Regions from separate parts of the Homo sapiens genome. Here region 2 is linked to region 1. The links come from fine-mapping of genetic effects on gene expression. A gene starts in region 1. The other region holds a variant in brackets. All regions are shown on one strand. Distances are from middle to middle.

Region 1 (12,325 bases):
GGGAGGACTGCTTGAGTCCAGGAGTTTGAGACCAGCCTAGACAACACAGTGAGACTCTGACTCTACAAAAAAATTTTTTAAAAGTAGCTAGGCAGTGGTGCACACCTGTGATACCAGCTACTTGGGAGGCTGAGGTGGGAGGATCACTTGAGCCTAGAAGTCAAGGCTGCATGAGCCAAGATTCGTGCTACTGTGCTCCAGCCTGGGTGGAGGGAGATTATGTCTCAAAAAATAAAAAAAATAAAAAAAAATAAAATGCTGGGCATGGTGGCTCACAACTGTAATCCCAACATTTTGGGAGGCTGAGGCAGGCAGATCACTTGAGGTCAGAAGTTCGAGACTAGCCTGGCCAACATGGTGAAACCCCATCTCCACTAAAAATACAAAACTTTGCCGGCGTAGTGGCGCACCTGTAATCCCAGCTACTCAGGAGGCTGAGGCAGGAGAATCGCTTGAATCCAGGAAGCGGAGGTTGCAGTGAGCCGAGATCACGCCATTGCAGCACTCCAGCCTGCGCGAAAGGGCGAGACTCTGTCTCAAAAAAAAAAGCTAAATTATACAACTGAGCAGTTGTATAATTAAAAGTAAAAAGAATGAAGTAGATTTGTATACACTGACCTGGAAAGATTCTATACTATATTGTTAAGTGAAAAAATAGGTTGCAGGATAGTTTATAATTTTGCTAAAATTTAAAAACCTATATCTATATATGTGCATGAATATATTACATGTACGTTGTGTACAATATTTGCATATGTGTAGGAAAAATATATGCTCTGGGGAGGAGACTGGAATTTTAGAAGGGTCAAATAGACTTGTGTTTCATCCATATTTTAATTTTTTTTCTTTTTTTTTAAATAACAGAGATGGGGTCTCACCATGTTGGTCAGGCTGATCTTGAACTCCTGGCTTCAAGTGGTCCACCCACCTTGGCCTCCAAAGTACTGGATTATAGGCATGGGCCACCGCACTCGGGCTATATTTTAATTTTTTATAAGAACATTCATCTGGTAAATGTGTATTTGCTTACACCTAGGAGCTTCAGGGAGTGGAATTATCTATCATTTTTCTTCTACTTTTATTTCATCTTTTTTTTTTTTTTTTTTGAGACAGGGTCCCACTGTGTCCTCCAGGCTAGAGTGTGGTGCGATCTCGGCTCACTGCAGCCTCAACCTCCTGGGACTCAAGCGATCCTTCCCACCGCAGCCTCCTGAGTAGCTGGGACTACAGGCACTCGCCACCACACCCAGCTAACTTCTGTATTTTTTGTAGAGACAGGGTCTTGCCATGTTGCCCAGCCTGGTCTCAAATTCCTGGGCTCAAGCAATCTGCCTATCTCAGCCTCCCAAAGTCCTGGGATTACAGGTGTGAACCACTGTGTCCGGCCTACTACAGAAATTTTTTAAATATTTATATAAGATGATATTTTATAAAACATATATTAAACTATAAACATATATAGTGCCTAAAATATATATAACAAGCTTTTAAAAAGCAGTCTGGCCAGGCGCAGTGGCTCACACCTGTAATCCCAGCACTTTGGGAGGCCGAGGCAGGTGGATGACGAGGTCAGGAGTTCAAGACCAGCCTGGCCAAGATGGTGAAACCCTGTCTCTACTAAAAATACAAAAAAGTAGCCGGGCGTGGTGGCGGGCGCCTGTAATCCCAGCTGCTCGGGAGGCTGAGGCAGAGAATTGCTTGAACCCCGGAGGCGGAGGTTGCAGTGAGCCAAGATTGCGCCACTGCACTCCAGCCTGGGTGACAGAGCGAGACTCCTTCTCAAAAAAAACAGCAGTCTGGAAAAATTCGATCCAAAAATTTATCAGTGGTCATCTCTGGAGAGTAGGGGAGAAGAAGGGTAACACTTTAGTAACGCTTTAGCTTTCTACCTAATGATTCAACTTTTTTCCAGACTAAAAAAAAATGGACAAACTAGTAGGCAATCCACCAGCAGTAAAGCTGCAAACAGGGTAATGGTCAGTTTAAGGATTGCCTTCATGTCTTGAAAAAGTTTCAGTGGCTTGGGGGACTTGGTTAAAATAGAGTTCACTGGTGTCTTGTGGCTGTAAGTGGGGACACATTTAAATGGGTCACCTAGCAGCTGGCAAAAGAAAAAAAAAACCCAGGAAATGGAAACTATAACGTTAGAGTCCCAAGACAAGGGTGCCCAGAGTTGGCTGTGGTGGATAGATACTTAGGTCAGTCCTCCCACCCCCACCCCCAGACCACACTCATAAATAAATACAAAGGAAATACTTTCCCGAGAGAGCCGGCCTCTCTCCCTTGGCCTCTGACCTCCCTGAGCGGCCGTTTCCTCCAGCCCCGGGACCCCGGCTCTCTCCCCGCGCTCTGCCCCTCGCCAAGGGTTGTAGCAGCGGCCGGAGGGGTAGCCAGCACCTGGCCTGGCCCCGTGCTCCAGGGGGAGCCTCCTCCCGGCCGGCTGTGCTGAGCTCCGCAGCGCCGGGTGACTCCCTGCCAGGTCACACGGAGCTTATCTGGCTCCAGGTGTGCTCCCTCACGCCGACTGCACGCTTCTCACGTGACATTAGCCAGCCCTCACGCCGCCGCGCGGGGAGCCGGGCGGCCCTTGGCGTTTCCCCGCGGCTGGGCCGGCGCAGCCGCAGCCCCGCGGCGCCTCCCGCTGCGATCCCATCTCCCCCGGAAGGCAGCAATCCCGCGGGCCATGGAGGAACGCGAGCGGGAGAGCTCCTGCGGCCTCGCCAGGTTCCCTGCTGCTCTTCCAGGTGCACCGCCTGGCGCTCAGTTCCGCTAACATCCCCTTCCGTGTGACCTTGAGCAAGTCCCCTCCCCTCTCTAAGCCTCCACTATTTCAGCTACAGTTATCTTCAAGGGCCTGACAGCTCAGATTTGGCCCTCAGCCTCTGCTGGAGAGCTATTCTGCTCAACCACACACTGCAGGTTGTAATCCCGCTCTGCCTCTGACTTGCTGTGTGACCTTCAGCCCATCATCCAACCTCTCTGAATATTAGAGAATAATCACAATAATCTCTTGTAAGTGATGATAAACTACTTGGCAGACAGAAAGGGCCCTGGGTCCTGTAAAATCATCAGTCTAACAACCAAAACTGCTGCCTGACTCTAAACTGTTTAAAATGTCAAGGGAAATTGACATTTTACAAGCCCTGCAATTCCTACCTCAAAAGAAGGGCAGGGAAGTGAAGGTGGGAAGTGGAGGCTCACCAGGTCTGCTCACCACCCCTCCCAATCCAGCTCCTACCTCGGCACCTCCCCAACTCCTCTAATTCAGGCCACCTTGGAAAATGCTAGGGGGAAGAAATGGTGATGGGGTGGGGTGTGCAGATCTTAAAGCACCCGGGGGTCTGACCCAAAGCAGAACTTAAACTCCATCAAGCTGCCCTACCAATCCCAAGTCCTGTGGGAACCTGTCAATTACAGCAGACAGTGGGCTGGGCCCTCCTACTGCCCCAAACCTTTAAACTACAACCAGCCAGAGCCCCTCAGTTTTCCCACCACACTCAGGCCTGGGACCCCAGGCCACCAACAAAACCCAGCTCACGTGGATGCTCTGGCTCCTGCCTGTGGCGTCCACCCCAGGTGAGAGGATCTGGCTGAGGAGAGACCTCTGGTTTGAAGGATTAAGAACAGCCCTGCTGCCCTGAAGACCTGTGACACAGCAAGTCCAGATGAAGGCTTCCTGAGTTCCAACAACTCCCAGCTCCACCTCAGCAGGGTGGATTCTCCCTTTCACATGAGCCCCAGTTCTGCCCCACCCAGTCCACCTTTAGGTACCTGCCTCTGGGGGACCCAGAGTTTTCAGGCCCAGTTTCTGAAGACACATGCAGTCCTCAATGAATAGCCACTACCAGGGCCAGTGAGGGGGCCTCCAGGGAACTGGCTGGCTACCCAGACAGCCCAGGAGTGAGGCTGAGAGACCAGGTGGGAGTCAGGAAGGGCATAACCCACATGAGGAAAGTCTGGGGCGCAGGAGGAAGCCCTCAGGCACACACTCTGGCACCTGGGCCAGGCCAGGAGAGAGTAAACAAACTAGACACTCAGAGCTACCAGGCACCAGGTCATCAACTGTTCAAAGTTCAAAGCTCCCAAAGGAAGTGACCGCCAGCCTGTGGCCCCTCCCATGCCCACCCTCCACCCCCACCTACAACCCTTCTCATTCCCCTAATCCCTCAACACAATAGCTGCCCCCAAAGCCATGGTTTTCCTGGAATTGAGGCCACAACCCCCATGTCCTCAACCCAAAATGGACAAGCACACCTCCACCCGAGGCTATATATAACCCGTCATGTCAAATCCAGAAACCAGGAGGATGTTTCCTGGAAAGACTTCATCACAAAAAAACAGAGAGGAAGCTGAGGAGGTGGGAAGCCATGGACAAAGAGCCAGTGAGGCTTGTCAGGAAGCCAGAGACCTCAGGAGAGCAACTTTCAATATCTCCAGATAGAAAGTAGCCCCTGAACTAAAAAGGGTGGGGAACATTAGGCCAGGCCTGTTGCCACAACAACAGGGCACCAACCTGCTCAAGAAAAGGGCTCCAAAGCACAAGGGAAAGGCGGCTGATTCAATGGGCTCTGTACTCACCGTCCTGCTCAGGTGATCTTGCTCTTAATCACCCAGGTGGCCTCCCCTCCCTTCCAGCACACCCCAGTGCATACACACTTCCCAGAGCTCACTTGCCACAGGGGCACTGATGAGGCCTTCTCGGCCACAGACACGCCAGGGGCTCCAAAAGACAAGACGAACCCACACTAACTAGCCCAAGTCATTGGCAGGGTGAAGCAGGGAGGGAATCCAATTCTTTAATTCGGGGTGGCCATCTGAGGGAATGAAAGCCCTAGCCAGGACAGTCCCTCTCAGGAAGCATTCCCCCAGCCCTCCCCACACAAATACAAACTATGAGGCCAGCGCCAAACACATGCCCCATTGGCAAAGTGGTCAGGCAAAATGAATACCCGCTCAAAAACAAACTGGCTGTCTTCCTCCCCATCTCCCCCACCCCCCACCTCTAGCTCATTCTGGCCGCAACCTTTCCAACTAATCAGCAAGACACATGTGCCTTGCAGTAGGGCAACTCCCCCATCTCCACCCCCAAAACAAAGCCCCAATGCCTGGCCTGTCCCTGCGGGCCTTATCGCACCCAGGAACATGACCCACACTCCTGGCCGGGTTTGGGACCAAGGAGCGCACCCCCACTAACAAGGGGCAGGGTGAGGGGGCAGCCACCCCTACCACCTCCCCTTCCCATTGGCGAAACAACTGGCATGACAGGTTAGCAGGGCGGGGCGTCGGGGCGGTCTCTCCAGAGGCCTGGGGCAGCTTGTCCGACCTTCCCACACGCACCCCACCCCTCTGCAGGGAAAGGTGAGGTGAGCATTCAGTCTCAGGGCACAGCCTGCACTCCCTAATCCCCAAAGCCTGCCACCATTCACCCTCTCATCTTCTGTCCCAAGAGGAGGGGGCCCAGGGAAGCGGGGTCTCCATTGTTTTGCCAGCTGTCTAGCAGCTGCTCCTTTGAGAGGAGCCCGCAGTCTGCCCGGCAGTGAAAGAGTGAAGGCCGCTGGGAGGGATAAAAGGGTCGGTAGAGGTGCTCCCCTTCCCCGCTGCCTTCCTCAGCGCCCCGCTCTCTCGCTCGCTCCATCGTGGGGCCTGGACGGGGGCAGGAGAAGTCCCCCCACCCTCGAGGCTGCAGCCCCCACCCCGCAGCTCCGGGCCACCTGGGCGCCTCCAAGCCCCAAATCCCCCCACACTGAAGGCCACCCTGTCCTGCCTCCCTGCGCCCCCCAGGTTGGCTGGAAGGGCCGGTGGTTCCCCCTTCCCCGCCGCTCCCGATCGGCCCCCACCCCCGGGCGTCGAGCTCCACGGCGCCGCCAGGGACGGGAGCCGGGAGTCCGGGCCGCTGCTTCCAGGGGACGGGGGAGGAGGAGGAGGAGCCGGCGGGCCCCGCCGCCCGCCCGCCCTCCCTCCCGGCCGGAGCCCGCCCCGCCGCCCCACCAAGCCGGGCCCGCCACCGAGCGGCCGCCGCCGCCGACCGGCACTCACCGGCCACCGGAGCCCGCCCGGCAGGCAGCAGAAGCGGAGACGCGGCATCCAGCAGCCTCGGCCCGGTCAGGGATGGAGCAGAGCGCAGCGCGGCGCAGCTCAGCGCCGCCCCCAGCGACCGCGCAGGCCGAGCCGAAAGGGAGCTCCCTGCTGGCGGCTGTGGGGATAAACGCCCGGCCTGCCTGGCAGCGCCAGTGCGCGCCGCCAGACGTGGGCCAGGCGGGCCGGGCGCTGCCCTGGCAGCCTCCGTCCGCTGTGGACTCCGAAGCCCCTCTCGCTGTGTCTGAGAGAGGCCCTGCCTGGAGTTTCTGTCTGCACTGGGCACTGGAGGCTGTCCGAAAAGGGTCCGAAAGGGGCTGAGTGGCACTGCCTAGGACAGGCACCAGGGTCATGATGAACGTATAGAAGAGGGGCTGTCCAAGGCAGGCACCGAACTCTGCAGGCTGTGTTCAAGGTAGTGCTGTCTAAAGGAAGCAATTAAGTCTTACTGGCCGCCTCCTCCCAAGGTGGCTCTGCAGAGGCACACACAGGGCCCTGCTGGATGGTGCCCCAGGCTCAGTCCAGACCAGGTACTGCCTGCCATGTCCGAGATGGCACTGCCAGAATGCACTCCCCAAGGTAAAAACAGACTCCCAATAGCTTGGTCTGATACAGCCCTGCCTCAAAATGGAGTGGATCAAGAGGCGTACCAGGGCCCGGGAGCCATGGCTGTAAGTGCCACTCACTCCCTAAAGGAGTTCACCAATGCCAAGATTAACACTTTCAGAAGCTCTTTGGAATGCAGTCTGTCCCTGGGTCCACTGTGTGCTGTAAATATCAAGTGAGCTGCTGTACCCACCAAGAAGACAGTTTATACTTCCTGGGAGAGGCCAAGGGACATCCAGATACCAGGCCTCCAAGATAGGTGCTATGTCTAGAGTTTGGAGAAAGAAAGAAATGGGGACACTTCCCTGGGCAGTGTCCATGCTGGAGTGGGGTGTGCCAGAATGTGGAAGAAACTGAGTGGGGTGGTGCAGGAAGAAGGGTGTAGCAGACAAATGCTGCTACCTCCCTAGACAGCCCAAACAGGAACTTCTCCAGGCAAGGGCAGCCCAACCTGACAGACCAGGGAAGGCTGGAGCAAGGAGGCTCAGAAAGCAGAGAGTTGAGTAAGAGTTAGGGAGTTCCTGAGGAATAGACCCAGGCGGGATACACATTTTGGAATAACATGCAACTCAAATTCAATTTAACAAACTGCCTGCTAAGTGCCAAGTGCAGCCCCAGGCACTTGGGGTGACACAGAAGGAGATCAGACATGGCATATCTCCAGGGAAATCACATGGGGAACAGGTAGACCTGAGCTGTGACAGTAGTAGGGTTCACCATGCTGGCATTACTTGGATGATGAGATAGGTGCTATGATGGGAGGCTTATTTGGCTTGAGGAGTGAGAAGAGCAGCTTCAAAAACATGACATTTGAGGCCAGGCATGGTGGCTTATGCCTGTAATCCCAGCACTTTGGGAGGCTGAGGTGGGCAGATCACTTGAGGCCAGCGTTCAAGACCAGCCTGGCCAACATGGCGAAACCCCATCACTACTACAAATACAAAAAATTAACCAGGCGTGGTAGTGCATGTCTATAATCCCAGCTACTTGGGAGGCTGAGGCAGGAGAATCTCTTGAACCTGGGGAGCAGAGGTTGCAGTGAGCGGAGATTACACCACTGTACTTCAGCCTGGGCGACAGAGCAAGACTCTGTCTCCAAAAAAGAAAAAAAAAAAACCCCAAAAACATGACATTTGAGCGGAACCTTGCAGGCTAAGTAGGACAACGACTATCATTAGTGTTTCCTGAGTACCTATTATATACTAGACACTATCTCTACTCCTCACAATGAACCTATGAGGGAGACATTATTATTATAGATAGGGGTTGAGTGCATGGACTCTGGAGCTGGATTGCCTGGATTCAAAATCTCAGTTCTGTAAAGTACTAGCTGTGTTACTCTGGGTGATTTTTTATAAATCACCTCTCTGTGCTTCACTTTGCTCATCCAAAAAATTGGGATAATAACAGTGACTCCCTCCCTCAAAATTTGTTTTGAAAATTATATAAGCTTAGTCTTTTCAACACATGGGGCTTTTCAACAAACTGGACATCCACATGCAAAAAAAAAAAAAGGGGGGGGTCTAGACACAGACTTTATACCCTTCACAAAAATTAACTCAGAATAGATTATATACCTAAATGTAAAACACAAAACTATAAAACTGTCTCCTAGAGGATAACATAGGAGAAAACCTAGATGACCTTGAGTATCACAATGACTCTTTAGATACAACACCAAAGGCACCATAAAAGAAAGAGCTGATAAGCTGGGCTTCATTAAAATTAAAAATGTCTGCTCTGCAAAAGACTGTCAAGAGAATGAGAAGACAAGCCACAACTGGGATAAAATATATGCAAAAGACATCTGATAAAGGATTGTTATCCAAAATACGCAGAGTTTTAAAAACTCAACAATAAGAAAATGAACCACCCAATTTAGAAATGGGCAAAAAACCTGATCAGACACCTTACCAAAGAAGATATACAGATAGCAGTAAGCAAAAGAAAAGATATTCAACACTGTATATCATTAGAGAATAGCAAATTAAAGCCAGGTGCGGTGGCTCACGCCTGTAATCCCAGCACTTTGGGAGGCTGAGGCAGGTGTGTCATGAGATCAGGAGCTCGAGACCATCCTGGCTAACATGGTGAAACCCCGTCTCTACTAAAAATATGCAAAAGACATCTGATAAAGGACTGTTATCCAAAATATGCAAAGAGTTTTAAAAACTCAACAATAAGAAAACCACCCAATTTAGAAATGGGTAAAAAACCTGATCAGACACCTTACCAAAGAAGATATACAGATAGTAGTAAGCAAAAGAAAAGATACTCAACATTGTATGTCACTAGAGAATAGCAAATTAAAGCCAGGTGCAGTGGCTCACGCCTGTAATCCCAGCACTTTGGGAGGCCGAGGCAGGTGGATCAGGAGGTCAAGAGATCCAGACCATCCTGGCCTACATGGTGAAACCCTGTCTCTACTAAAAGAACAAAAATTAGCCTGGTGTGGTGGCATGCACCTGTAGTCCCAGCTACTCAGGAGGCTGAGGCAGGAGATTCACTTGAACCCAGGAGGCAGAGGGTGCAGTGAGCCGAGATTGCACCACTGCACTCCAGCCTGGGTGACAGAGCAAGACTCCGTCTCAAAAAATAATAATAAATAAAAAATAAAAGAGAATAGCAAATTAAGATGACCATGAGGTAAAACTACTTTATTTACCTAAATTTGGATTTTGGCCAAAATCCGAAATGCCAACAACTCCAAATGCTAGCAAGAATGTAGAGCAACAGGAACTCCCATTCTCTGCTGGTAGCAAAATGGTATAGCCACTTTGAAAGACAGTTTGGTGGTTTCTTAGAAAATGAAACATATTCTTACCATACAATCCAACAATCCCACTCCTTGGTATTTATCCAAATGAATTGAAAACTTATGTCCACACAAAATCCTGCACATGATGTTTGTAGCAACTTTATTCATAATTGCCAAAACTTGGAAGCAACCAAGATGAACTTCAGTAGGTAAATGGACAAATAACCTATGGTATATCTAGACAATGGCATATTATGTGGCACTAAAAAAGAAATGAGCTATCAAGCCATGAAAAGACATGGAGGAAACTTAAATGTATATTAATAAGTGAAAGAAGCTGATCTGAAAAGGCTACATGTTGTATGATTCCAACTATATGGCATTCTGCAAAAGGCAAAACTATGGAGACAATAAAAAGGTTAGTGGTGCCATGGATTAAGGTTGAGGGAGGGATGAAAATGCAAAGCACAGAGGATTTTTAGGGCAGTGAAACTCTTCTGTGTGATACCGCACTGTTGAATACATGTCATTATGTGTTTGTCAAAACCCACAAAATGTACAACACCAAGAGTGAATCCTAATGTAAACCATGGACTTTGGGGGATACTGATGTGTCAATGTAGGTTCATCGATTGTAACAAATGTACAACTCTGGTGAAGAGTGTGATCGTGGGGAAGGCTGTGCATGTGTCGGGGCAGGGGGCATATGGGAAATCTCTGTACTTTATGCTCAATTTGGCTGTGAACTTAAACTGATTTTTAAAATAATATTTATTATTATTATTTTGAGACAGGATCTCAGTCTGCCACCCAGGCTGGAGTGCAGTGCTGTGATCTCAGCTCACTGGAACCTCTGCCTCCCAGGTTCAAGTGATTCTCCTGCCTCAGCCTCCCAAGTAGCTGGGATTGCAGGCATGTGCCGCCACACCAGGCTAATTTTTGTATTTTTAGTAGAGATGGGGTTTCATCATGTTGGCCAGGCTGGTCTCAAACTCCTGGCCTCAGGTAATCCACCCACCTTGGCCTCCCAAAGTGCTGGAATTACAGGCGTGAGCCATTTTGCCCGGCCTTGTATTTATTAATTTTTAAAAATTACATGATTTAATATATAAAAAGAACAATGCCCAGTACATGGTAAGCATTCTATAGCTGTTAGCTTGGTTATCTTTCCTAACTCATAGTTGTGGAAATGAAGCACAGACAGCTTTGTGACTTGTACCCAGCCTAAGAGTAGCAGAGTCAGGATTCAAACTGAGGTCCCTAAGGCTCCAAAGCCCATTCTTTTCCCTACACCATGGCAGTGAAATGAATAGGTATATTAACAACTCTTTTTTTTTTTTTTTTTTAGGAAGAGTTTCACTCTTGTTGCCCAAGCTGGAGTGCAATGGTGCCATCTTAGCTCACTGCAACCTCCGCCTCCCAGGTTCAAGCGATTCTCCTGCCTCAGCCTCCCAAGTAGCTGGGATTACAGGCGCCCGCCACCACACCTGGCTAACTTTTTGTATTTTTAGTAGAAACAGGGTTTCACCATGTTAGCCAGGCTGGTCTCAAACTCCTGACCTTAGGTAATCCGCCTGCCTTGGCCTCCCAAAGTGCTGGGATTACAGGCGTGAGCCACCACATGCCAGTCAACAACTCTTTTATTTACATGTGTCTACACCTAGGGCACTCTCTGGGTAGCATATGGTGTCCCTGAGAGCTCTTCTTGCCTGAACCAGGAACCAGTTTCAGACACTAAGCAAGACTGAAACTCCAGGGCAGCACTCACACTGACACAGTAACTCTGGTTCTTCGTCACTTGATTTTAGTCTTTTCCTTCCCAAATGCCAGAATAAACCCTGCCCTAGCTCTAAGTAAAAGTAAAAGTAAAGCACCCCTCTCCTCTTCGCACAGAAAAAAGCCAGAGCAGTATCCACATAAAATCACCCAGATGGTCATGGGAAGGCCAATTTTTCCAGAAGATTCCTAAAGTCCTAAAATGATCCGACTTTAATCAAGAAGCCCTCCACCCCAGAAAGAAGCTGGGTAATAAAAATCACTTATATCAAGGGAGCCTAACTATGGGTCAGGCACTATGCTAACCCCTTAATCCAATGTCTCACTTAATCCCCAGAATTACCATATTAGGGAGATGCTAGTCTTATCCCCATTTCACAGATTAGAAACCAGGCTTGGGAAAGTGAATTAATTTGCCCAAGGCACTGTGACTAATAAACAGCAGAGCCTGGAATGCTTGCCCTGAAGCTCTGGGCTGCATCCTGGGTGGAGTGGTGAGTGCCTGGGCTTTGGGGCCTCACAGAGAGGATGCTTGGCTCTAGCAGCTGCCAGCAAGCTCCTTAGCCTCTCTAAACCTCAATTTCCTCATCTACAGAAGAGGTATAATAATGTGGCCAGGCGCAGTGGCTCACGCCTGTAATCCCAGCACTTTGGGAGGCCGAGGCAGGCAGATCACGAGGTCAGGAGATAGAGACCGTCCTGGCTAACATGGTGAAACCCCGTCTCTACTAAAAAACAAACAAACAAACAAAAAAATTAGCCGGGCGTGGTGGCGGGCGCCTGTAGTCCCAGCTACTTGGGAGGCTGAGGCAGGAGAATGGTGTGAACCTGGGAGGCAGAGGTTGCAGTGAGCTGAGATCCCACCACTGCACTCCAGCCTGGGGGACAGAGCAAGACTCCGTCTCAAAAATAATAATAATAATAATATTAATATTGCCTACCTTGTAAGGGTGTGAGATAATAAAATAAGCAAATTCATTTAAAGCAATTAGCCCAGTGCTCGAAACACAGTAAGTGGTTAACAAGTGTTAGGAATTATTAATCTCTCTGAACCTCTATTTCTTCATCTGTAAAATGGAGGCTGATAATAATATGTAGAGTTACTGTGAG
Region 2 (12,325 bases), 41 kb before region 1:
TCATTACTGCACGCAGTGCTGTTAACTTGGGTGCCGGGGTGGCCCAGATTCCAAGTCCACTCTGTGTTCTTCACCAGCTCCAAATCTGTCCTCCCTCCAGTGGCTCAAGTTTGGGACCCCAAATGTCTGGCCCAAGGTGTGGCATTGGGGAAAACACTGGGTGCCCCCCAAGTGTCTGAAACACTGGGCCCAGCTCTGAGCTCAGCTCTGGATTTAGCATCAGGCTGACTCACTCCTCCCTCCCCCATCAGAAGGGCTCTGGCTGTTGTAGGTCACTGCCCAGCTGGGGACTATGCACACGCATAAAGGCACACACACAGGCAGTCCCAAGTCTGTGGCCTGAATCACCCTCTGGACCCAGGTGGCCAACTGGCCTGACTCCCCACCCTTGGCCCCTTGTCCTCCTAACCCACTGCAGCCCCCAGGATCAGGGAGACCCAGTTCCAGCGGTCCCTCCACAGCAGCCCACGTTCCAGGGGTGAGTCAAGGCAGCAGGGTGGTGGGAAGGGTGTGGAGGGGTTAACCCAGAGGGACACCAGCAGGACAAAAGGCAGCTCACCTTACCAGAGGTGGGGCTTAGGGGAGAAGCATGACTCAGTGCAGGAGCCCATCCAGCCAGAATAGGGAGTTCACCAGCCCCCGTCATTCTCCCTGCCACCCCCAATTATACACACATGCCCCAATCCATCTCTAGCTTCCAAAGCTCCCTCTCCCACAAGCCAGTCTCCTGCCTGCAGATACAACATGCCAAGCACACAGGAAAAACATAAAGATTTTAAAATCCAACTTTCCTTTTGCTCCCAGAAGGCGAACCTTGATGAAAAGGCCATGGCGCTGAAGGTAACCTGTGCCCTGGGTCAGAGAAGAAATGGGGGGCAGGGTCTCTCAGTGTCTCTGAGTCTTCCCAAAGGCCAGAACCTGCCAGGATAAACACTGTGGGCAACAAGGGGAAAGGAGGGATGGAGTGGAGGAGGAAGGATTACAAAACTCAAGAGGGCATTGGAGTAAGGAATAAAATATTAAAGGAAAATGAAGGAAAGTAGGCACAGAACATAGCACTCCCTACCCTTGGAAGCTGTGTGCATTGTTTTTATTTTTTTATTTTTATTTTTTGAGATGCAGTCTCACTCTGTAGGCCAGGCTGAAGTGCAATGGTGCCATCTCGGCTCACTGCAGCCTCTGCCTCCCGGGTTCAAGTGATTCTCCTGCCTCAGCCTCCCCGGCACCAACACGCCCAGCTAATTTTTGTACTTTTTAGTAGAGATGGGGGTTCACCATGTTGGCCAGACTAGTCTCGAACTCTTGACCTCAGGTGATCCACCCGCCTTGGCGTCCTAAAGTGCTGGGATTACAGGTGTGAGCTGACGTGCCCGGCCAGAAGCTGTGTGCTTTGAATAAGCCACTTCGCCTCTTTGGGCCTCTCTGTAGAATTAGGGGCTAGTCTAGACAATGGCTCAAGGCCTCTCCATGTCTGGCACCTTAGGAGTCTACGTGGGGAGAGGCACTCAAACTCTATTTATTTATTTATTTATTGAGTCGGAGTTTCACTCTTGTTGCCCAGGCTGGAGTACAATGGCGTGATCTCGGCTCACTGCAACCTCCACCTCCCGGACTCAAGCGATTCTCCTGCCTCAGCCTCCCAGGTAGCTGGGATTACAGGCGCCCGCTACCACGCCCGGCTAATTTCTGTATTTTTAGTAGAGACGGGGTTTCTCCATGTTAGTCAGGCTGGTCTCGAACTCCTGACCTCAGGTGACCCACCTGCCTCAGCTTCCCAAAGCGCTGGGATTACAGGTGTGAGCCACCACGCCCAGCCAACACTCAAACCCTTAATACAGTAAACCAAAGTTGCAGGCCTGTGACCTAGGAGAGGAATTGAGGAATCTGCCTCAGGACCCCAGCGACTTTGCCTTCCAGCTGTAACACACAATTACGTGGGGCAAGAGGCCCGGAGAACTGCAAAACTGTCCATCTATGGATTAGAAACCAGAGCTGGGCCGCTTGAAAAATCAAGTCAGAATCTGCCTCAGTCCAGGGAGAGGCTGCATCCAAAGAATCAGGGCACTTCAGTGGAGTTTAATAACTGGTTCTTTTTTTTTTTTTAATTGAGACAGAGTCTCATCTCACTCTATCACCCAGGCTGGAGTACAGTGGTGCAATCTTGCCTCACTGCAACCTCCGCCTCCCGGGTTCACGCCATTCTCCTGCCTCAGCCTCCCGAGTAGCTGGGACTACAGGTGTCCACCACCATGCCCAGCTAATTTTTTGTATTTTTTTAGTAGAGGCAGGGTTTCACCGTGTGAGCCAGGATGGTCTTCATCTCCTGACCTCGTGATCCACCCGCCTTGGCCTCCCAAAGTGCTGGGATTACAGAGGTGAGCCACCGCGCCCGGCCAAGAACTGGTTCATTCTTAAAACTGCTTATCATGAATAATAGTTAAAAATTAGGAAATGTTTTGTTTTCAATTAATTATTTCTATTTTGCTTTGTTGACTTCTGTTTTATTATTCAGTTAATGTGCTAGAGACTTTAAGTTTGTCTGTTGGTGTAATTTTAACTCGTTTGATCTTTGATCTCTTGTTCAAGTTTTCCTACTTGTCTATAGAGGTCCCATCTGGCCCAGGCTGTGAGGACACCGGGCCATTTCCACCCAGGCCTGTTCCTCTGCATCAGCTGTTCCTATGAGCTTCACTCTGAACACAGATGTGGGGCTCTCCCCAGAGGAAATTCTCTCTGTGGCTTTTATGCAGAATTGCCTAGACAGTTTTCCTCTCTCCCTTATCACTGAATTTGTTTAGGATCAAGAGCAAGTTATCCTGGAACTGGATTGTTTATAACCCAAAGGATAAATGCTTGAGGGGGTAGAGACCCCATTGTCCATTGCCCAAGCACATGCTTGTTTCTCAATGCATGCCCATATCAAAACAAAACATCTCATGGACCGGGCGTGGTGGCTCACGCCTGTAATCCCAGAACTTTGGGAGGCTGAGGTGGGTGGATTACTTGAGCTCAGGAGTTTGAGACCAGCCTGGGCAACACGATGAATCCTTGTCTCTACCAAAAACACAAAAAATTAACTGGGAACGATGGTGCATGCCTGTGGTCCCAGGTACTGGGGAGGCTGAGGTGGGAGGATCGCTTGAGCCTGGGAGGCAGAGGTTGTAGTGAGCAGAGATCGCAATACTGCATGCTCCAGCCTGGGTGACCGAGTGAGACCCCATCTCAAAAGAAAAAAAAAAAAAAAATATATATATATATATATATATATGTAATGTATCCCATAAGTACATAAACCTACCATGTACCCACAAAAATTAAAAAAAAAAAAGATCAAGTTACTGTTATCCAAGACAGAATGGGTAAGGAACTCAGGCCCCAAAGGTGGTGGCAGCATATGTGTTGGGAACATATGGCTCTCTGGAGCAAGGGTGTTTAGATCTAAGGCCTCTCTTCCTTGACTTGTTCTCTCTCTAGAGATTTCAGCCATTTCCAGCAACATTACTGAATATGGAGCACCTACAATGAGATGGGCCCTATACAAGATATTGAACATTTATTTTCTAATGTAAATCTTACAACAATCTGAGGATTGGTGATATGGGAATTATTATTATTCCCATTTTATCGAGGAGGGAAAAGATTCAGAAAGAGATTAAGTCACAAAGTTAGTTAAGTGGGGGAACCCAGACTTGAACCCACACTGGTCTGCCTCCAAAGCCTGTGCTGCTTCCTCAGTGCCCACCTTTTCTGGTATGTTAGGCAGGCATCAGCTTTGGTAGCCAAATCTGGTTGATAAACTTCATCGGCGTGAAGGTTCAGAAGATCTGGTCAAGCCAAAGCATGGATTGATAGTGTGTTTTACTAGTGTGCAACTCTCCAAATCGAGTTTTTGGATGTGCAAAAAGGGAGACCCCACCATGATTCTGCCACTCTGCAGGTCTACCCACCTCCTCCCTCTGTGGCACTTCTGAGGGACAGCAAGAGAGACCAAAACTCACTGAACACTTACTATGAGCCAGGCACAGGGGAAGGCACTTCATACAGGTCTCCTCATTGAATCCTCATAACAACACACTTTCTAGATAAGGAAATAAAGAAGGTGAATTGCCGAGAGCGCTGCAACTATTAAGTGGCAGAGCTGGGAGCCACAACCAGAATGTATCTTGGGGAGCTGTTTGTGCGTCTTTGTCATCCCTGGACTGTGATTCACCTCTGAGCAGAACTTACCCATCTTACTCATCATACTGTAGGCGCTTAATAAATGTTAGCTGCACGAGAGTGCTGGGACAGGGGTTCTTTGCACAAACCTCTTATTCCCATCTAATCTCTTCCCCAAATATAAACTACAGAGAACAACACTTGCCCATTCTGATTCCCAGGGACATGGTACAAACAAGGGAGGTATAATCTCTAAACCTGCTCACAATAAATACATAGTGAACTCAATGCCTGGGTTTGCAGGGAGGGCAAGGACACTGAAATTGCTTAGTAGCTCTTCGTGAACAATAGCCACAAAATGCATCATCCTCTGGCCTACCCATTCCATCTTCAGGAATGTATGTCCAGTGAGCTGACTTAAAGAAAGAAAAAGAAAAAAAACGCAAAGATTTTTATAGATGCACTCTATATAACAGCTCCAAATTGGAAAGAGCCCAAATGCCTAGAATTAAGAAATGGTTAGGTACAACCCGTTGTTGTATTGCCATTTAAACTGACAAATGTGTGGACAATGTAACCATATGGAAAGCTCCATATAAAATGACATCAATCAAAAAAACTGGAACCCAAATAGTATACAAACAGTGATCATAATAATCTTGTAAACTGTGTGAATTAGACACAACATGAACACCTGGTATTTATTTTGGTATGTATTTGTTACTTACTGCTTATTTTTATTGTGAAGATGGCTAAATAGTCAAAAAAAAAGCAAAGGAGATAATAGCTAGAAGCATTTGTTCTCAAAGAGGAGAAATCCAAGAAATGTACTGAGGGACTGTCAAGCCTCAGCCCCAGGAGGCTTCTGACACTCTGGGAGCAGCTGGGGTTTACCCTCCACCATGCCAGCAGAGCCTACCCGCCCTTAACCTGCACTCTCTGGGCCCCTCACAGGAGGGAATGGGGGCACAAATGCTCCTGGGAGAATAATGCCACGCCTCAGGCAGCCCCTCAGGCCTGGAATGCCTGGCCTGGACAAATGCTTTGAGGCCCAAGCATCCACACCAGACATCTGCACACTGCAAGCCCCCGAGAGCAGCAGGTAACTCTCAAGAGAGTGCCCAAAGGAAGCTGAGACGTAGCTGGTGGCCGAGGTCACTTTCCCGCCTCGCCGCTTCTGACAGCACTCACACACCGGAGGCTTCTCCTTCTGAGGACCAAGAGGCAGGGCATTCTCCTCTCCTCCCTCTTTCCCATTCAGAGGCACAGAGGGCAGCTCCCAGGAGACTTCTTCCTCCCAGTCCCAACCTAGCACCAACTTATCTAGGGATTGAGGGCGAGGAAGGGTGGCAGGAACAAAGGAGAAGGGAAGAAATACTAGCATAATAGTAAAAAACGGTTAATCATTATTGAGCATTTGGTATGTGTCAGGTGCTGTGCTGAATCCCTCACATGAATCATCTCATTTGATCCTCACAACATCCCTCTGAAATAGATACTAGTGTGACTGTGTGACTGCTACTTTACAAATGAGCAAAAGGAGGCTCAGAAGGTCAGGTGACTCGCCCAAAGCCTCACAGCAGCAAGTGGCAGATCTGGGACTCACACTCAGGTCTCCTGCGAGAGCCCTCCACTGCTCACTTTAAGGGATGGAGGCACGCCCTGCCCTCCATTTCCCCTGGTTCACCTGCACTGTTGTCCTTCTACATCAGCTGCCAGAAGAGCAGCTTGGGAGGAAAGCAGGGGTTCCCAATGATGACCCGCCCCTCCACCCACCAACCTGAATATGCTTTACGTGGAACTGCTTGAGAGGAAGGGAAGCTCTCTAAGGAATGAACTGAAGGCCATGCTGCCAGACAGCGGGGGAGGGGGAGATGAGCTTGGCAGGGACAACCTGGCCCTTGCAGTCCAGCCTCCAGCCAGAGCCCTCCCCAGCCCCAGGGCGGAACAGAAAGCAGCCGGGCACCCGCCTCACTGCAGGCCAGCCCAGAGGAAGCAGGTGCACTGGAATGGCTTCCTGCCGCAACTGCAGTTGCAGAAGGGTCTTGGTTTCCTCCTCCAACGACTGAACCTGCTGGAGGCCCCCCTTCCCTGGGGATGCTCACTGCCCCTCTGGAGGGCACTTTGCTGTCTGCTTGGATATCACTGTGCATGGCCCTAAATCTGTGACCTGGTGCTAGTGGCCCGGGGGTGGCTGGGGGAGAGTACCCTAGACCAGGAAGCGCCCATCTCTCAGGGTGAGGAGCTCTCTCTGACCTCTCCCCCACCCCCGGGCATACTGCCCACACAACTCAGCCCTGGTGCCAGTTTGGGGGCTGAGGCAGGGCAGTCCTGAGCACAGAGAGATACAAGTACTCACGGGTACATCTCAGGCTCCTGATGCACCTCCGCACCAGGCCAGCCCACGTACTCTGCCAACTGCTGACACAACTGAAAACCTTACCCTTGGTGGCTGGGAGGGGTAGAGTCAGGGGAACGGGAAGGACTGGGAGCAGCTATGTCTCTCCTCACTTTCTTTTTTAAGGAACTTACTTATCTGGAGTAATCTCTACTAAAAAAGAGACTTAGGGCCAGTCAGAGCATCCCCAACACGCCATCTGTGCCCCTTGCAAGTGTCCTATGCACAGAAATGGAGGTGGCCATGCTAAGACTACTCTTGGGGACAGCGAGAAGGGTGCTCCCTGACAACTCCAAGGACCATCCCCTCTCAAGGAGGAAGAGAGGAAAGAGCTATACCAGCAACAAAGCAGAGACAAGACTACCGAGGACCTTGGGTGCTGTGGGGCTGGGGCTTTGGAAGAAAACAGTGTTCTAAGGAATGAAGGCCAAAAAAGCACTAATGGTTGGTGGGGAAGGCGTGTCACAGCCTTGGGGGTGGATGCAACCCCAGGAAACTGAGGTTCAGAAGACAGTGCCCCTCCAAAACTCCTGAAGTCATGAGTCAGGCCCAGGATGCCCTGCTCCTAGCCACGGAGGGGTTTTGAGGCTTCCGGGGCTGAGTAACTCCCTTCTTACCAAGAAGCTCGGAGAGGAGCCCCAAGGCTGCCCCACCCCTCTCCCCACCTACTTCAGCCACATCTGGGGAAATCACAAAAAGGTCCCTCCTTTCCTAAATGAGGAAATAGCATGAGGAGCCTGGGACATTTCCGGGGTGGGGGGTCAGAGGGACACTCACCCGCATGGCCTGGCCTGGAGC[A/G]GCCCAGAGCAAGGAGACTCCGCTCTGATGCTGCTCTGGCTCCGTTAGCAGCTCAAAATAGCACAGGCTGTGGCCCCGCCCAGTTCCCGCCCTCTCCCCGGCCCCTCCCGTCCCGAGCTGCCCAGCCCTAGTTGGAGCCAGCAGCCCGGAGGACTTCGGGTATCAGGTATGCCAGGAGGGAGAGGGTGATACAGCAGTGTGTGTGGAAGGGAAGGAGAAGGCTCTTAGGGTAAAGCCATTGGGGTGGGGGGCAGGCAGTGTTAGGGGGTTAGGGCAAGGACAGGGAGGGTGAGACTTGCCTATGGACACACACCCCAGCTCCGGGACAGCTGGGCTGATATGGCTCCTAAAAATAGCAGAGGAATTTGAGACCTGCAGCCCCCGGCCCCACAGGCCAAGCTTGAGACAAGCACATGCGCACTCATGTGCATGTACACGTATACACACACACACACACACACCAGCATGCACGAACATTCAATCAACACAGTGTTCTTGAGAACACCCAAATCATAGGCCTACCCTAGCCATCTAATTACTGCGGCAGAGGCCAAGACAGCCACTAACGTCACATCCAAGACAGCACACGGGGCCCACTGCACACTGTGCCCAAACAGCAGCCGCAAAGCAGTCCTGTAAGGTCTGGCAGGAGCAGAGACCCACACGGGCAGGCCCACTTACTGCCCCACTGCCATCAGCACACAGGGGACATGCAGAGAATCAATTACACTCTCTTTGTTTACATCCCTCTCCCCTCCACAGACGCCAGGGACTGCACAGGCAGAGAGGAGGGTGGGGTGGGCCTCAGCCCTGCAGACAGAGGAAGTCATGGGTGTCTAGCCAATGAGTGATGGCTGCCTGTGAAAAGCCAGTGTTTCTTGTGAAGAGAAATCCTGGCCTGGCTCTCCAGTTAGCACCATGGGATGCCTAGACCAGGACTAGGGACCCGCTGAGACGCTGAAATGGGAGCTGGAGAACAGAATGTCAAGGGGCCAAAAGACAGGGAGAGCAAGTCTCAGAAGCCGTCAGCTCTGCAGAAAAAAGGAAACAGTCATTGCCTCCCTCTTCCTCTTTAGGAAAAAAAAAAAATGGGGTGGGGGTGGTGCTAGGAAGCCCTGATACAGAACCGCCTCCTAACCAGTCTGGCATACACCCCATGCTTCTTGCCCCTGGCCAGCTCTAAGGGCCATTGGTTCTATACATTGTCTGACTTTCTCCATGAAAAGATTGGTAAGCACTGCCAGAGAGGATGGAAACCCAGCCCTGCCTCCTACCTGCCATGCGCTGTCCAAGTCTCACTGTCATATAGTCACATACACAGACTCTTAGGACACGGCGCTTGTGTCCTGCTCTCTAGGGAGTGGGATGTCCCCCCAGGGGAAGCATCTGGCCCTTCTGAAGCACGTGCAGTGTCACAGGTCTTCACATCTTCAGTGGCTACTTAGAACAATGGTGCCAGCCTCAGCTGCTCACTGAAATCCACTGGGGAACTTGAAAAAAATACTGATGCCTGGAGCCCACCCTTTCCCTCTCAGTTTCTGACATAATTGGTCTGGGAGCAGGGGCCTGGGCACTGGGATTTTTTTGTTTTTGTTTTTTTTTGAGACGGAGTCTCGCTCTGTCGCCCAGGCTGGAGTGCAGTGGCGTGATCTCGGCTCACTGCAAGCTCCGCCTCCCGGGTTCACGCCATTCTCCTGCCTCAGCCTCCCGAGTAGCTGGGACTACAGGCGCCTGCCACCATGCCCGGCTAATTTTTTGTATTTTTAGTAGAGACGGGGTTTCACCGTGGTCTCAATCTCCTGACCTCGTGATCCGCCCGCCTTGGCCTCCCAGAGTGCTGGAATTACAGGCGTGAGCCACTGCGCCTGGCTGGACACTGGGATTTTTTATTGATAAAAGCTCCCCAGGTGATTCTCACATGCAGCCAAGGCTGAGAACTGCAAGACTCTAAGGCCAGCATAAGGCCTAGCACAGAAATGTCCATTTGTTAAATGAATGAGTGAATGAATGAATGATTTAGCTGTGTGAACACAGGCAGGTGACTTAAATTTCCCTTATCTGTAAAATGAGGATTACACCTTTACTGACTCTTACCCAACCAGTATGAGACTGGTACATAATGTATGTGAAAGGGCTTTGGTTCTCCAAGTTCTCAGGCCAGCAGCGTGGGCATCCCCTGGGGACTTGTTGGAAATGCAAATTCCAGGAACCCAACCCAGACCTGCTGAACCAAGAACTCTGGATATGGGGTGCAGCATCTGTGTTTTAACTAGGCTTCCAGGTGATGCTGAGGCACATTAAAGTCTGAGAAGCACGGCTTGAAAGGAATGATTCACAGCATACCATGGTTAGGAGTATGACCTCCAGGGCCACACGGCCTGGTTTAATCTTGGCTCTTGCATGAAGTAAACTACACAACTTGATCTCTCTGTGTTTCAACTTCTTTTCATTTGTATTTTATTTTTTGAAATAGAGTCTCACTCACTCTATCGGCTGGAGTACAGTGGCTCCATCTCGGCTCACTGCAACCTCCGCCTCCCAGGTTCAAGCGATTCTTGTGCCTCAGGCTCCTGTGTAGCTGGGATTACAGGCAGGCGCCACCACGCCCAGCTAATTTTTGTATTTTTAGTGGAGACGGGGTTTCACCATTTTGGCCAGGCTGGCCTTGAACTCCTGACCGCAAGTGATCTGCCCGCCTTGGCCTCCCAAAGTGCTGGGATTACAGGCGTGAGTCACCATGCCCAGCCTCTGTGCTTCAATTTCTTCATTTGTAAAATGGGAAAATAATAGCACCTACCACATGGGGTTATTACATGGGTTAAAAGAATTAGTTCATACATAGCTCTGAGAACGGTGTCCAGCACATTCATTTTCAATACTTAAAACAAAACAAACAAACAAAAGCTCTTTTGCCCAGGCTGGAGTGCAGTGGCACTATCTTGGTTCCCTGAAATCTCCATCTCCTGGGCTCAGCCCATCCTCCCACCTCAGCCTCCGTAGTAGCTGGGATCACAGGCATGCACCACCGTGCCACCATGTAGGTTTTTTTTTTTTTTTTTTTTGCACAGATGGGGCTTCCCTATGTTGCCCAGGCTGGTCTCAAACTCCTGCACTCAAGCAATCCACCTGCCTCAGCCTCCCAAAGTGCTGGGATTACAGGCATGAGCCACCACATTTGGCCTTAATACATTTTAACTATTATTATCTACCTATGATCATAAGCGGGGGAAAAAATGAGGCATTGTAAGCAAAATTTCCAGGTAACTGGAGCCTACCCTTTTTAAGGGATAAAAGATTTAAGTCATTTTCTAAATTCTATACTATTTATAATCCTAAAAATAACCAACATATATACCCTGCTTCCTTAAGTACAACACTCCTAATTCATCTCAAAGATCTCACACTCTGAGCTTTCCTTCTTGAACCCAATCCATTTCTGCTCCATCCTGTACTGAAGGGCACGCCATCTCCACCATGATGACTCCTGACTTCCTGGCCTGGCTACAGCAGCCTGGCTTCTGCCCCACCAATGCCCCAGCCTCTCTCCAAGGGCACCAGCCCCTCTTAGGCACCACCATGCTGAAGCCTTGCATATGCCTATATTAGGAAGGCCAGATGCCCTTTGTGGCCATATGTCTGCTTTTTAATTCTTTTGTCCCCTACCTCATTAGGCCATCAGCTGTCACTCGTCTGTCAGTGTGCCTGTCTCCACTCAGCTTCACATGCAACTACAGCTAGTCCCTCTGCTGCCCAAAGCGTGGTGGTGCAATATCAGGGCATGGTCCATTTCTTTGATGAGTCTAACTGATGGCTCCAGAGGCCATGTGGACACTCCCACAGCCAGCCAGGCCACCCCAAGCCCCTCAGCTTGCCTCCAAGGACAGCTGGAAGCTATAATCTGGCCCCTCCTCAGACTTTACTTTCACTTTTCTAGTCTCTTCTCCCTCTTCCCAGCCAGCCTGGCTCTCCGTCATTTGCCTGCCCTTGTCACCACCAGAGCCATTCCTTACGAATGTGTCTCTACCTTGGCTGACCCTCTCCATCTCTCCAGGCCCATCTCAACTCCTGCCTCCCTTATGAAGCCTTCCCTGAAACCCAAGACCCACCCGGCAATGCAAAGAACGTGGGCTTGGCAGCCAGACACACCTGGGTCTGAATCCCAGCCTCTTTCTTGCTGTCTGACCTAAGGGAAAGTTACTTGACTTCTTAGAGTTTCTACCTTTTTGGCCTTAAAATAGTATGATATCCACCTTATGAGGCTGTTATAAGAATAGAAAAGGCAGTACATGTAAAGCAACTGATGTGCGGCCTGGCAAATTATAGTTATTAAATTATTAATATCATTATTATCATAAACCATAGCACTCACTGTCCACACCTGAACACATTACATACATACGGTTCTTGGTTATACTCAATATGGTGCTCTATTATATACAGTGGAGTCACACACTATGTGGGGTTAGATTCCAAAGTCAGCACGTAAGGCAAAAATAGAATATAGTCCAAAACTCCTGAAAATCCCTTAAACTGCTCACAAAGTATAGTACACATGATTTTGAGTATGCCATTTGGTATAATATAGCTGCAGGAAAGCATAATAGTCATGTACAGCATATAGTAAAAACACACAAAATATTATTTTTATAATTTTAGGCTACAGTAATATAGTTTCTTTCACAACCATATAGTTGAACTTATTGAAGTTTACTGTCCACGTGCCATGACTATACAGCATAACTAATGTTCTGAATGATAATCGATTCGTGTTGAATGTTTAAGCCTGCTCTCCCTGGAGAGCTGGGACCATTTCCTACTTCCTTTATATCCCATCCCGTTCCCCAGCACTAGGCACACAAAAGGTGTTCCACGAAAATCCATATGGATTTAACCAACTGATCTGAACGGTGCACGCACAATAAACGGGCTGGAATAGAGTGGGGAACAAGGGGATCTCCATGTGTGGTGACA

The links. PIP is the estimated chance that this variant, and not a neighbour inherited with it, causes the effect.
Region 2: its variant is fine-mapped to the expression of MYO18A in whole blood (INTERVAL, PIP 0.99).

What each region holds. Positions count from the first base shown.
Region 1 is chr17:29,174,277-29,186,601 of GRCh38, forward strand. It overlaps MYO18A (myosin XVIIIA), which reads right to left and starts at 6,122. Exons shown (of 42, transcript NM_078471.4): 1 at 6,037-6,122. RefSeq lists silencers at 2,595-2,794, 5,796-5,845, 5,966-6,015, 5,981-6,201.
Region 2 is chr17:29,133,007-29,145,331 of GRCh38, forward strand. The region is part of intron 2 of MYO18A (myosin XVIIIA); the gene reads right to left. LOC124903967 (a long non-coding RNA gene) reads left to right here and starts at 7,468. Exons shown (of 3, transcript XR_007065693.1): 1 at 7,468-7,520. RefSeq lists enhancers at 4,713-5,696, 5,697-6,680, 6,373-6,422, 7,623-7,712, 7,863-7,912 and 1 more and a silencer at 7,113-7,162. The variant A/G (reference allele first, on the strand shown) is at 7,355.